Regions from separate parts of the Homo sapiens genome. Here region 1 is linked to region 2. The links come from fine-mapping of genetic effects on gene expression. A gene starts in region 2. The other region holds a variant in brackets. All regions are shown on one strand. Distances are between the middles of the regions.

The links.
Region 1: its variant is fine-mapped to the expression of ZNF503-AS2 in whole blood (TOPMed, PIP above 0.99).

The regions. Positions count from the first base shown.
Region 1 is chr10:75,435,254-75,440,623 of GRCh38, forward strand. It overlaps LRMDA (leucine rich melanocyte differentiation associated), which reads left to right. Exons shown (of 7, transcript NM_001305581.2): 2 at 3,141-3,241. Among named protein-coding and RNA genes, the nearest start is that of LRMDA, 6.3 kb to the left of the region's middle. The variant C/T (reference allele first, on the strand shown) is at 2,159.
Region 2 is chr10:75,399,029-75,404,398 of GRCh38, forward strand. ZNF503-AS2 (ZNF503 antisense RNA 2) reads left to right here and starts at 2,500. Exons shown (of 2, transcript NR_024421.1): 1 at 2,500-3,233. It overlaps ZNF503 (zinc finger protein 503), which reads right to left and starts at 2,736. Exons shown (of 2, transcript NM_032772.6): 1 at 2,077-2,736; 2 at 1-1,346. The coding sequence starts at 2,391. RefSeq lists an enhancer at 1,738-2,238.

The DNA.
Region 1 (5,370 bases), 36 kb after region 2:
GCTGAAGAAGCAAACTATTTTTGGTTTGGCTCTTCTGGCCTTGAATCTTACATTAGGTGGTCCTGTGCTCTAAGAAGCTTCCTGACATCCTGAGAGGTAATGTCTTCCCTCAGAAGCACTTCTTAAGTCTTTTTTCTAGTTTCAAGCATTGCTTGCAATGTCTGGCAGTGGCTGCTTGCTGCTTTTAAGCCTTTTCCAGCTGATTTGAGCCCTTCAGCCTGGTCGGCTTAACTCACATCTCTAAAAGCTTCTACTTTACCACAGGAGTTATCTAAGCATGCAGATTACTTATCGAGTTGGTTCTCATGCTAAACTTTTGAGACTTGGTCTTCACATTTGAGAACAGTGAGAACAACTTGTATTTTTCTTAGTCTTCCTGGGATGTTGTATAGTTAAGACCATGTACTGAAACAGGCTGCTGACAGTCTCATCAGATGTTGTGAGTGATCCAAATGCTTTATGATAGCTCTCCTTGGTGCTCCTGTTTCCTTTGAATGGAATTCCTACAGAAGAAAAAGGGAAGCAAATATCCCTCTCTTTTCCCAGGCTCTAACACTCTTCTTGGGTCCTCAGTGTAGCACCGTGGGAGAAGTTCTTGCCCTTTCAGCTCAGAAGACTCATTTTGAAGCCAAAACATGATGATAGATGCACCACTGGCATTTGCTGATCAAGAAAACTCATGTCTGCCTGGTATGGTGGCTTGTATCTGCAATTCCAGCTATTTTAGGAGGCTGAGGCGAGGGGATTGTTTGAGTTCAGAGTTTGAGATCAGCCTGAGCAACACAGTGAAACCCCATCTCTTTAAAAAAAAAAAAAAAAAAGAGAGAGAGAAATCTCACACCCACACATGGATTTGTAAGCACTCCATGGCCCCCAAGTTGGAAGTCCTTATTTATGGCATAGGACTTGATCTGGGCTCTATCACTAAGAAGCTGTATTGTGCTGGGCAGGGCTCTGGAGTCTTAGTTTCCTTGTATAAAACATCAGAAGTTTTGACAAACTGGGTGTCTATTAGATTTAGTCCTTGGCCATTCTAAGAGGAAAGAGCCCAGTTTCTGCATCTAAAACTCAACGTCTCTGCTATATATATCACAGAGGTCTTGACTGATAATATGTGCAAGACAGTAGTGCAGGCTGGGGTGAATGGGATGGATTTTCTGGTGAGCGCCATGGACCTGGGGTTCATTGTGAACGTACAATACAGAAGAAGCTGCTGAATTTTTTTTTTTTTTTGAGACAAGTCTGGCTCTGTCGCCCAGGCTGGAGTGCAGTGGTGCAATCTCGGCTCACTGCAAGCTCCGCCTCCAGGGTTCACACCATTCTCCTACCCTAGCCTCCTGAGTAGCTGGGACTACAGGCACTCCCCACCATGCCCGGCTAATATTTTTTGTATTTTTAGTAGAGATGGGGTTTCACCATGTTAGTCAGGATGGTGTCGATCCCCTGACCTCATGATCCTCCCACCTCGGCTTCCCAAAGTGCTGGGACTACAGGCATGAGCCACCGCGCCTGGCCAAGAAGCTGCTGACTGAGCAGAGATCCTGAGGGAAATCGAAGTCCCCAGATAGAATAGGGCCTTATAGCCACAGTCTCTCTTTGGCATATGATTTCTGTCTCAGCTTGGAAGCAGAACTTAATTTATTACACAAGGAACTGTGAAGAAAGATGGACCCCAGGTAGAAAGAGGAGAGATTGCTAGATTGAACTTAGAGTCCTTTATTTTTTAGCCTATATCTTCTTGAGTCAAAATTACTTTATTGGAGTCAGCTATTTTTCTATCCTTTCTCCTTATTTTCTCTCCTCCTAGAATGAAGTTACTGAAGGAGAGTGGATATAGGATATTGCATTGTCAGCAGTTTGTCCTCATTGGATAGGAGAAGGTTGAGAGATGACTGGAGATGTTGAGGGTGTCAGGGTTCAGTGCAGCTTGTATTAGGTTGCACCATGTAAAAGAGCTATTTTGTGGTTCTAAAATGGTTGGATATTGGTAGTTCACATAGTTGAACCTAATATCTGAGGATGTAAGATGGCCACCATAGTCTTGTTTCCCATGAGGAAACACCCTCCTGGGGAGTCTCTCTCTCTCTCATTCTAAGAGATCTTTGTCTATATGTGTGGAAGAATGTGATTTGTAGGGAAACCAGAAGAAGGTTATAGC[C/T]GTGTCTTGGGCTTGAATTTCAAGCTGGGGGTTGAGCATGTTGTATTTTAGGGAAACAGCATGCATTGTGGCCCACTGGTCAACTCGGCCTCATGGGTTTATTTTATGGTTTGAGGATTAGTTGCCAATCTGCCCACAGAGTGCTGTCTGTAAAAATGGGTTCCAAAAACTGGGTGATTAGGGTAGTGAGAAAGTCCACTGACCTTCTCACAGGTTCTGGAATCAGTTCAGATTCAGTTCAGTTCAGCTTTTTAATATTTGGGCACATACAGGTACTTAATAATAAATAATCTGTAATAAATAGAAGAATGCCCAAAGAAACAGCTTTGTGCACAGAGTGGGATTGACTGCCAAAGGGCCTCTGGAGGAGGGACATTCAGGAGCCCCGGACACACATTGTTGCCCTGTTGCCTTCAAATCAGCTTTGTTTGGGTGTGGAGGGCATTTTGTACACAGTGGCAACTGGATGGGATTTGTGGTCTGGGGAGGTTTTCTTTTCCAACCCTATTTGTTCCAGCACCCTGAAGGTTGGATGCTGGTAAGTGCATCTGCTGTGTCTTTTATGAGGTAATGTGCATACCAGGGTACTGGAGGGCAGTGGAGGAGAGGGAGAAGAAGGGGCAGAGGAGCAACTGTTGCAAAAGCCCCTGAGTGAGAGGGCGATTGTTGCGGTTATATCAATGTGCCCTGATATTCAGGTTTCTTTTGGACACCTGAATCTGGCCAATTTTAGTCCAATTTCCATTGTCCTGGGATTAGTCTTCATCATGTTAACTGCACCAGGAAAGGGGAGCTGTTGGTGGAGTCCTTGGAGCCCCCAAAGCTGATTTGATCAGGGAAACAGTCACAAGTGTGGCCTTTTTGTGTGTGAGAAACATGTGTTTCAAGTTGCAGAAGCAATCATTGGATCAGTAATTTCAGGGTTGGGAGCAGCTGGGTGATTTCCATTTGCCACATTGTTTCTGTTCCATTTAATTTCCAGGTGTCCTACATAGGCCAGGACTGCAGAGAAATTCCAGAGCACCTTGGCAGGGACTGTGGACATTTCGCAAAGAGGCTTGATCTGAGCTTTAACCTTCTGAGGTATGTAACCTTCACAAGATGTAGGCCAGGCCTGGGAGGCCCAGTCCTCCTGGGTACTTTAGGGCCAAGCAGATAAAAGTCAAATGTTCCAACTCCACATGGGTTGTCCTTTTATTCAGCAGAAGGCTCTGAGATGCGTGGAATCACACCCCAAAGGTTTCACTGTGTCCGGTGATTCCTTGGCTGCCTTTTTTTGTGCTGCTGAAGAGGCAGGCAGCATATTGAGCCTCATCCATTTCACACGAGTTCCTATGAGAGAGCCGTCATATTTTCACTGTGTTCTTTTCATTTCTCACGGATACCTGTGCAGACAGGTCAGAATACTCTTGGGGAAGGAATGAGATGAAGCCTGCAAGAGTGTTTTGGGGTGTCTAGGTGTGCTTTCTTAGGATAAACACATGTCCCAAAACATTCGTCGAGTCACAGGTAGGGTGTGTGTATGTGTGTGTTCTCTTTCTTTTGTCTTTTTATGAATGGGAGCTTTAAATATTTGTGATGATAATTTCTCCCGGATGGTGTTTCAAAGCAATTTAAATACTGCTGGTGTGGAGTGGGTGGGAGGAAAACTCTCTGACAACTGTTCCAGTCTTGGCAAAGGTAAGTGTGATCTTGTATATTATTCCAGTGGAGAATACAGGCAGTTATTTCCTTTCTCCCTAAAAGGTTATGCCTTGCGCCTGGTTTGGGGGCTTGGAGGAAAGAAGTAAGAGGTACTTGGAAAGCAGGTGTCAGTGGGATAAGAGCAGGGGTCAGGCAGGACGATTGCTTTTCCTCCTAACAAGCTGGTGCCACCCAGGGCTTTTTCCTCCATGCCCTCCTTGAGAGCTGTGCTGCCCTCTGAGTGGGACAGACTGTCCTGGGGTCAAAGGAGAGATAAGAACCTGAATTCCATTCCAGGGCCCAAGCACTTTCCTGCTTCTAGGCCTTGGAGTCTTCATTTCCCACAGCTGAGTCAGGATACTTGGGAATTAGGAATTTGTAATTGGAAAATGGAACACAACTCTGGAAAATGAACACAACTCAGGGTAATAAGGCACGAGAGGTGGAAGAGGATTTGTTTGAGGTCAGCCAGCGGAACTCCTTGGATGCTGCTCGGGAGCACATGGCCACACAGAGCTGTGTTGTTTCCAGGAAAGGGGCACCCTGAGGGTTGTAGTGGATGGAGAGTGGCCGCTGTCTGTGTATTCTTCCTTACTCCCAAAGGGTTTGTGTGCATCTGGGGAGAGGTGGAAACTGACAAGTTGTAAAGTAGTACACAGGGATGAGAGGAAGCCAAATAAATACATGCTGACTCTAGAGAAATGAAGGATGTGTTTTTTGTTCCAGTACCTAAGGAGAGGACCGAGTGCGTGGCCTTGAGTGCTCCAGCTTCCCAGAGCAGACTTAGGCAAAAGGCTTCCTTTCCTGGGCATGGAAGGAGTTCCTCCTGTGTGACCAGCCCCCAGGGGCTCAGGGCACTGGAGCTTGGGTTGTGGTTGCCCTGAGTAGTTAGTGGGAGCCGGATGTGGATTTGAGGAGGCTGGACCCCGTGAGGGAGCATCAGTGCATGTGGATCATGGGACTGGGCTATTGGGTTTGAGGAAACACAGCCATCTTTGTGATGTCCAGGGGCCCTGCCTTTCTTTGGGAGAGGAGGTACTGGACCTTGGGAGGTGTGTATGTGTGGCAAGAAGGGGCTGTTGGCTCTGAGGGGCTGGATCTATATGGATTTATTGTAGGAAATGACACATACTAGATGCAGGAAAATTTCGTAAGGGGGTGGCTGAAAAGTGGATTCAGAGGGAGAGCACTGAAGATTTGTATTTTCCTTTGTTGAGAGGAGAGACATTTCTGTAGTGTTGAGTTTGAGTTGGTTTCACATCTGGTCAGGAGCCTGTTCTTGTCCGTGTTGTGGTCAGTGTGTGAACTCCACACTGGACAGTAGCTGAGTTTGGGCAGGGATGAGGAGTGGAGGGGTGAGGTCTAAGGTTCAGAAAAAGTTTGTGTTTAAGAACTTGGTTACACTGGAGTCAGTTGCAGACCAGAATGGAGAAAAGCACTCCTGACTTGAGTTGGGTGTGCTTGGGACTGGATCACCTTTGACCTTCTTTATTTACCTAATTGGAGGGAAGAGCAGGGGAGGCAACACT
Region 2 (5,370 bases):
CCCGACAGCAGTTTGTCTGTCCCGGGAAATGCCGTATGGGTCCGCAAGTGGCTCAGCAGCTCTTCGGACGTGGCGAAGCGCTTGTCGCACGGCCCGTTGGCCGACACCCAGTTGCAGATGTGGGGGAGTGGGTCGTTAGGGAGCATAAAGCCGTAGGGGTAGAGGGGGTGGCCGGCCAGGGAGGGCGGTGTGGCGCCAGCAGCCGCGGCGGCCGTTAGCGAGGAGTGCACACCGTGCAGCGGGTGCGTGGGGTACACCAGCGGGTATCCGGACTTCAGCGCCGCAGCCGCAGCAGCCGGATCATGTGCGCAAGAAGCGCTGGCGGCCGCCGCCCCTGCCAGGTGGCTAGCGCAGTGGTAGCTGAGGCAGTAAGGGTCCCGGCACAAACTGGCTGTCATCACGGACGGCGGAGACGCTCCGGCCAAAGGGCTGGAGCCGGCCGGCTTACTGCAGCCCAGAGACCCGGCCGCGGCCGCCGCCAGCTGCGCCCCCACCAGGCTGCCCGGCTTGGTGGGGTCAAGTGCCACGCCGTGTGGCAGGAACTGGGGCGGGTAGCCGGCGTAGGCCCCGGCCAGGCTGCCTGGGTAGGTCATACCCGCGGGAGGCAGAGGGAACACTGTCTGGCCCGGCTTGTAGGGTGACACGGGAGCCACCAGCCCAGAGCCCAACACTGAGGAGGAGGTGGGCGCGCTGGGGCCGGAGCCGGAGCTGGAGCCCGATGAACCGCCGCAGTCCGAGCCCAGAGCCTTGCCTCCCGGGCCCCCATCCGGATGCTGGTTCACATCCACATTAATCCCGCCGCCGCAGCTAATCCGGCCGTGTGCCAGCCCCGTGGGTCCCCCTTCGGCCGAGGCGCCCCCGGTGCCCTTGCCACCGCCGCCCACGTCGGTGTCTTTCTTGTCGTCCTTGCCCTCCGGGGCACCCCCGGCCGAGGACAGCATACCTCCCGGCGAGCAGGCCGAGGCGCTGGAGCTCGGGCTGCCTGTCCTGGGCGTGAATGGCTGGCAGGTGGCGCTCGGTACCCGGAATCCCGACTTCTCCGACGAAACACCCCCGCCGCCGCCCCCGCCACCGCCACCGCCTCCACCGCCGCCTCCCGGCTCCTTCTTATCCGAGCCGGGTTTGGAGTACGGCTTGAAACTCGACTTGTCCTCCACGCCGATGTCGCTCAGCTTCAGGGGGCCCGATTTGGTGTCCTTGTCGCCCGCAGCACCGCCGCCGGCACCGCCCGCGCCGCCCCCGTTGGAGGCAACCGAGGAGAGTTTGGAGGAGGGCGAGGGGTCGGGCTTCCCGATCTGCGAACATGTTTGCGCCAACAGCGCCAGCGGGCTCTTCTTGGCATCGAGCTGCGGGGTCAGACGATGGGGGGGGAGCGTCACACAGAGAAAGAAGTGGAAACCCTTTAGAATCCTGGCTTCTGGGGTTCAAATGCCTCTCCGCAACAGCCCACGAAGATCCTCCCAGCCCCAAGGCGCAATTCTAGGCGGCACCCCCTCTTCAACACCCACTCACAAACATTCTCGCCGTTGGGAAAGGCAGCAGATTGCTCCCCCCGCCCAACCACCACCCCCAGCAGCATCTTTCCTGCCCTCTCTGAGCGCTAACTAGATTTTTAAAGAGCAAAATGTTTTGGTTTTCGGTTCCTAGACCCAGAACTGTACCCCCTCCCCACAAACACTCCTTAATTCTTCAGAGTAAGGGCTCGGGCGGCTGGCGCCTCAGAGGCTGTGTGCACACACTGGCTTCTGCGGATACGAAGGACGGCGACTTTGGAACCGTATTTCAGACCTCCGCCTGCCTTCGGTGCCGAGTGAAGGGGCCTGGGTCGGGGTAGGGGCTTTCATATCGAAAGGAGAAACAAGTATTGGCAGCCTTGCTCCCTAGCATGCACGCCCCATTCCACTTCCTCCCCCTTTTCCGCCCTAGTTTTGAGGTACGGAAGCAGTAGCCTCTTCCCCCATTCGGGAGCTGAATCACTCCGACCCCCCCACCTCCGCCCAGATCCCGAGAAAAAGAAAGCCCTAGGGTGGCAGCCAGGGTAGTGGTCCCAGTGCGATCCAGAGAGAGGGTCCTTACCTCGATGGGGCTGACCGGCGTGGAAGGCAGGGGCTGCAGGTACTCGGGGTGCAAAATGTGGCCAGTTCGTGCCGTCAGCATCTTCAGCACCTTGATTGGCAGGCGGTTGGCCTGGCGCAGGGGGTCAGAGGGGGGCACGGCGTGCACAAAAGGCTTGGTGCTGCCGGCCGGGGACGAGCCTGGGCCGGGGCCGGAGCTATTTCCAGAGAGCGCGCTGGTCCAGGCAGGGTCTGCACCGCCGCCTCCGCCTCCGCCGCCGCCGCCGCCGCTGTGCTTACTGCTTCTTAGGGCAGAAAGCGAGGGCGCTGTGCTCATGACCCACCCGCGCGCATGGGAGCAGCGGGGGGGAGGGCTCCGGGAGGCGCGGGGCGGGCTCGGGGCTGCGCGCTCGCCCCGGGAGCAGGAGCAGCGGGAGGAGGAGGAGCTGGCGCGGCGGCCACGGGCGCCCAGCGCGCCTTCTCGGCGCCTGGAGCCAGACGCGAGTAATCCTGGGTGGCCCGCAGCGGAGCCGTGGCCGGGCTAGAGGAGCCGGCTGGACTGCGGGAGTGCCGGGCGGCTCGCGGTGTCCGCCTCGGGCTGCTCCCCTGCGCTGCGTTCTCGCGGCCCCGCGCCGGCGCTGCGCTCTGCGATGCGAGCCGCTGCGTGTCCAGCCGGGGCTCTGGCGAGGAAACTCACTTCAAAAGCAGCTGCACCAAGGGGGAGATTAAAGCCTTTGCCGCCTTCCAATCAAATGGGAGCCCGAGGTGATTGGAGGGTCAAGGGGATGTGACGCGTCCCGCGCCGCCGCCGCCGCCGCTGCCAGGACTCTCAGTGCCGGTTTTAATGGGCAGCTCCCTCTTCGCCGCCCCCCTGTGTGTCCCCTCCCTCGATTTCGCTGGGAGGACGAGATGGACATTTATTCTACGTTTGCCATCCGCCGCCTCCCTCTTTTTTCCTCCTCGTCGTTCTTCCTTTCCCCAGCTCGAAAATAAACTGAAACCTTCTTTTGAAGGGGGGTGCGCGTGAGGAACAGACTGCGGGGGGTGTCCAGAAGGAGCACCGGTGGGAGTGTGGACACCGGCCGGACTGTCAACTCCAGGGGCGAAGGGAACCTGCACACCCAGTGTTTTTTCCTTCGCAGTAATCGAGATCCCGCGCGGCGCAGCGCAGCCACCAGGGTAAGAAGGCAAGGTGGGGAGCCGGAGCTGGAAGAAGCCCGCCCGCCCGCTCTAATTTCCTCAGATTCCGCGGCGGAGAAACCAGAAGCTAGATGGGCAGTCGCAGCGGCGGCGGCTCAACACCGCGAGGAGCGCTGGGCTCTCCGCCCTTCCCGGCCACGTGACGCCCGGGGACGCGTAGATTGGGGCAGCAGCGGGGGTCACATGTTTCCTCTGTTTCACCCTCAGTCTGTCCCCCAACCCCCCATTCTTACTCTCCCACCCTGTTTTCCTCCCTCCCCCCCTTCTTTGGGCATCTCCACCCCTCCATCAATTGTCAATGTTCCTCGACCGCAATCAATCAGTTATTTGTCAGCTCTTGTCAATCCTCCCGTGATTTATGTCAGCTTTTGTTGCTGATTACAAGGCGGGTGCGACTTGAAGGGAAAAAGAGAGAGGGAGAGAGAGACGGAGAGGAAGGAGGAGATTGAGAGGGAACTGGAGGAGGGGAAAAGAGGAGCGGCCTCCTGGGATGGGGGTGGGGTGGGGGCTCTAAGAAAAAGAATGAAAGAGGCGCACGGTGTCAGGAAAATGAATAGCGAGAGTAAAGTGCGCAGGTGCGCCCAGGGCGCCGAGAGGGGCGCGCAGGCCTGGAGTGTGCGCCTGCCCTCTCGGTGTCGGAGAGACGCCCTTCCACCTCTGGGAGCCTCGGTCTGTTGGGGTCGCGGAGTTCGGGCGCGGCTCCGGGTACCCGAGACCAGCGGCGGCAACTTCTAACACGGGAGATTTCCCGCCACCCCACCCCGCCGCCGCGAGTCCTCGCGGGGCGTGTTGCGTGCGGAGGTCAGGCTGCCACCCTCTGTAGTTCCCTAACCCCAAACTCGGAGACTTCTAAGAGCCACACCACCAAGGAACTTCTAGTCCTGGAGGTCAATGGTGGGGCAAACCTCGCCTCAATTCTTTGACCCCCTCGGGTCGTAAGCAGGGCTAAGAGGCTGCGAAGAAGAGGCCTGGCCATGGGTGTATGGGGGAAGAAACATCTCAGGCTCACTCATGCCCCCTCCCCGACCTTCTCCCACCTGCCGCCATCCCCGCAGGCTGGGGAGCCAGGGTAACTCGGGGCTGCTCTCTCGAATTTATTGGAACGCCGAGTCGGAATGAGCTGCGCTAGGAGAGCCGAGGGAAGGAGCGAGAGAGGGAGGGGGCGGCTGCCTGTGGGAACGCGGGTTCTTCCAGGGAAGCGGAGCGGGACTGCCGCGTTCCCCTCGATTTGCACCGTCACTCGGGTTGTTTGGGAAGAAAAGGGGAGGCGCTGTGCGTGCCACCGGGTACCTGGACCTGGATGCCCAGTGTGTATGCATGCCTGTGGCGCTGCGTGAGTTATCGGGGCTCTGATAGCGTCCGGAGCGGGTTCGAGGGTCTCCTCCAGGAACTCGCAGAAATTAGAGGGGGTGGGGAGGAGGACACACCCCCTTCCTCGGAACGACTTAGAAGACTTTGAATCTCCCCTCCTCCGCTTTTCCGCCCCGGCTCTTCTTTTGTTGTCAAGTCCTTTTGATAAATGGTGGGGCTGGGAGCTCTGGGAGTCGGGAGCCAGTCTGTGCCCGCGTGGGGGGCGGGGGCCGAGCCTGGAGACCCGGTTTCGACCGGCGCGCACCTGGGGCTGAGCCGGGTGCGCGCGGGGGTCGGGTCTGGAACTGCCCTTGGTATGCTCGCCCTCTCCTCTTGGCCCATCTCACTCCCCTCCCCCACCTGACTCCCCTCCCCGGCTTCTTTCTCTGTCTCCCACTCCGCACGGGTACCGAGAACTTTCCGGGGTGAGTTTTAGAATTTGCTCCTAGGCATTCTTTTTCTGCGTTTGGATTTTATCCCTTGATTCTTTGGGTTGGTAAACTTTATGAAATGGTAACTTGACTGAAGCTCATTTGGAGAGAAGAGGGGAGTGAGGCGGTGTGTGCTTGGGGCTGGTGTTTGTCAGTGTGAGCGTGTAAGAGCACACCTGCATTCAAGGGGGTTTGTAGTGTCCGTGCGACATCTGAGGGAGGTGAGTCGGCGAGCGGGTGGCGAGGCCCCACGCTGAGGGAGGCGGTTGTCTGGTCTCCGGGGAGCAAGTCCCAGGTGCGCGTTTCGGAGGGCGGGACAGTCCTACGCTGTCTCT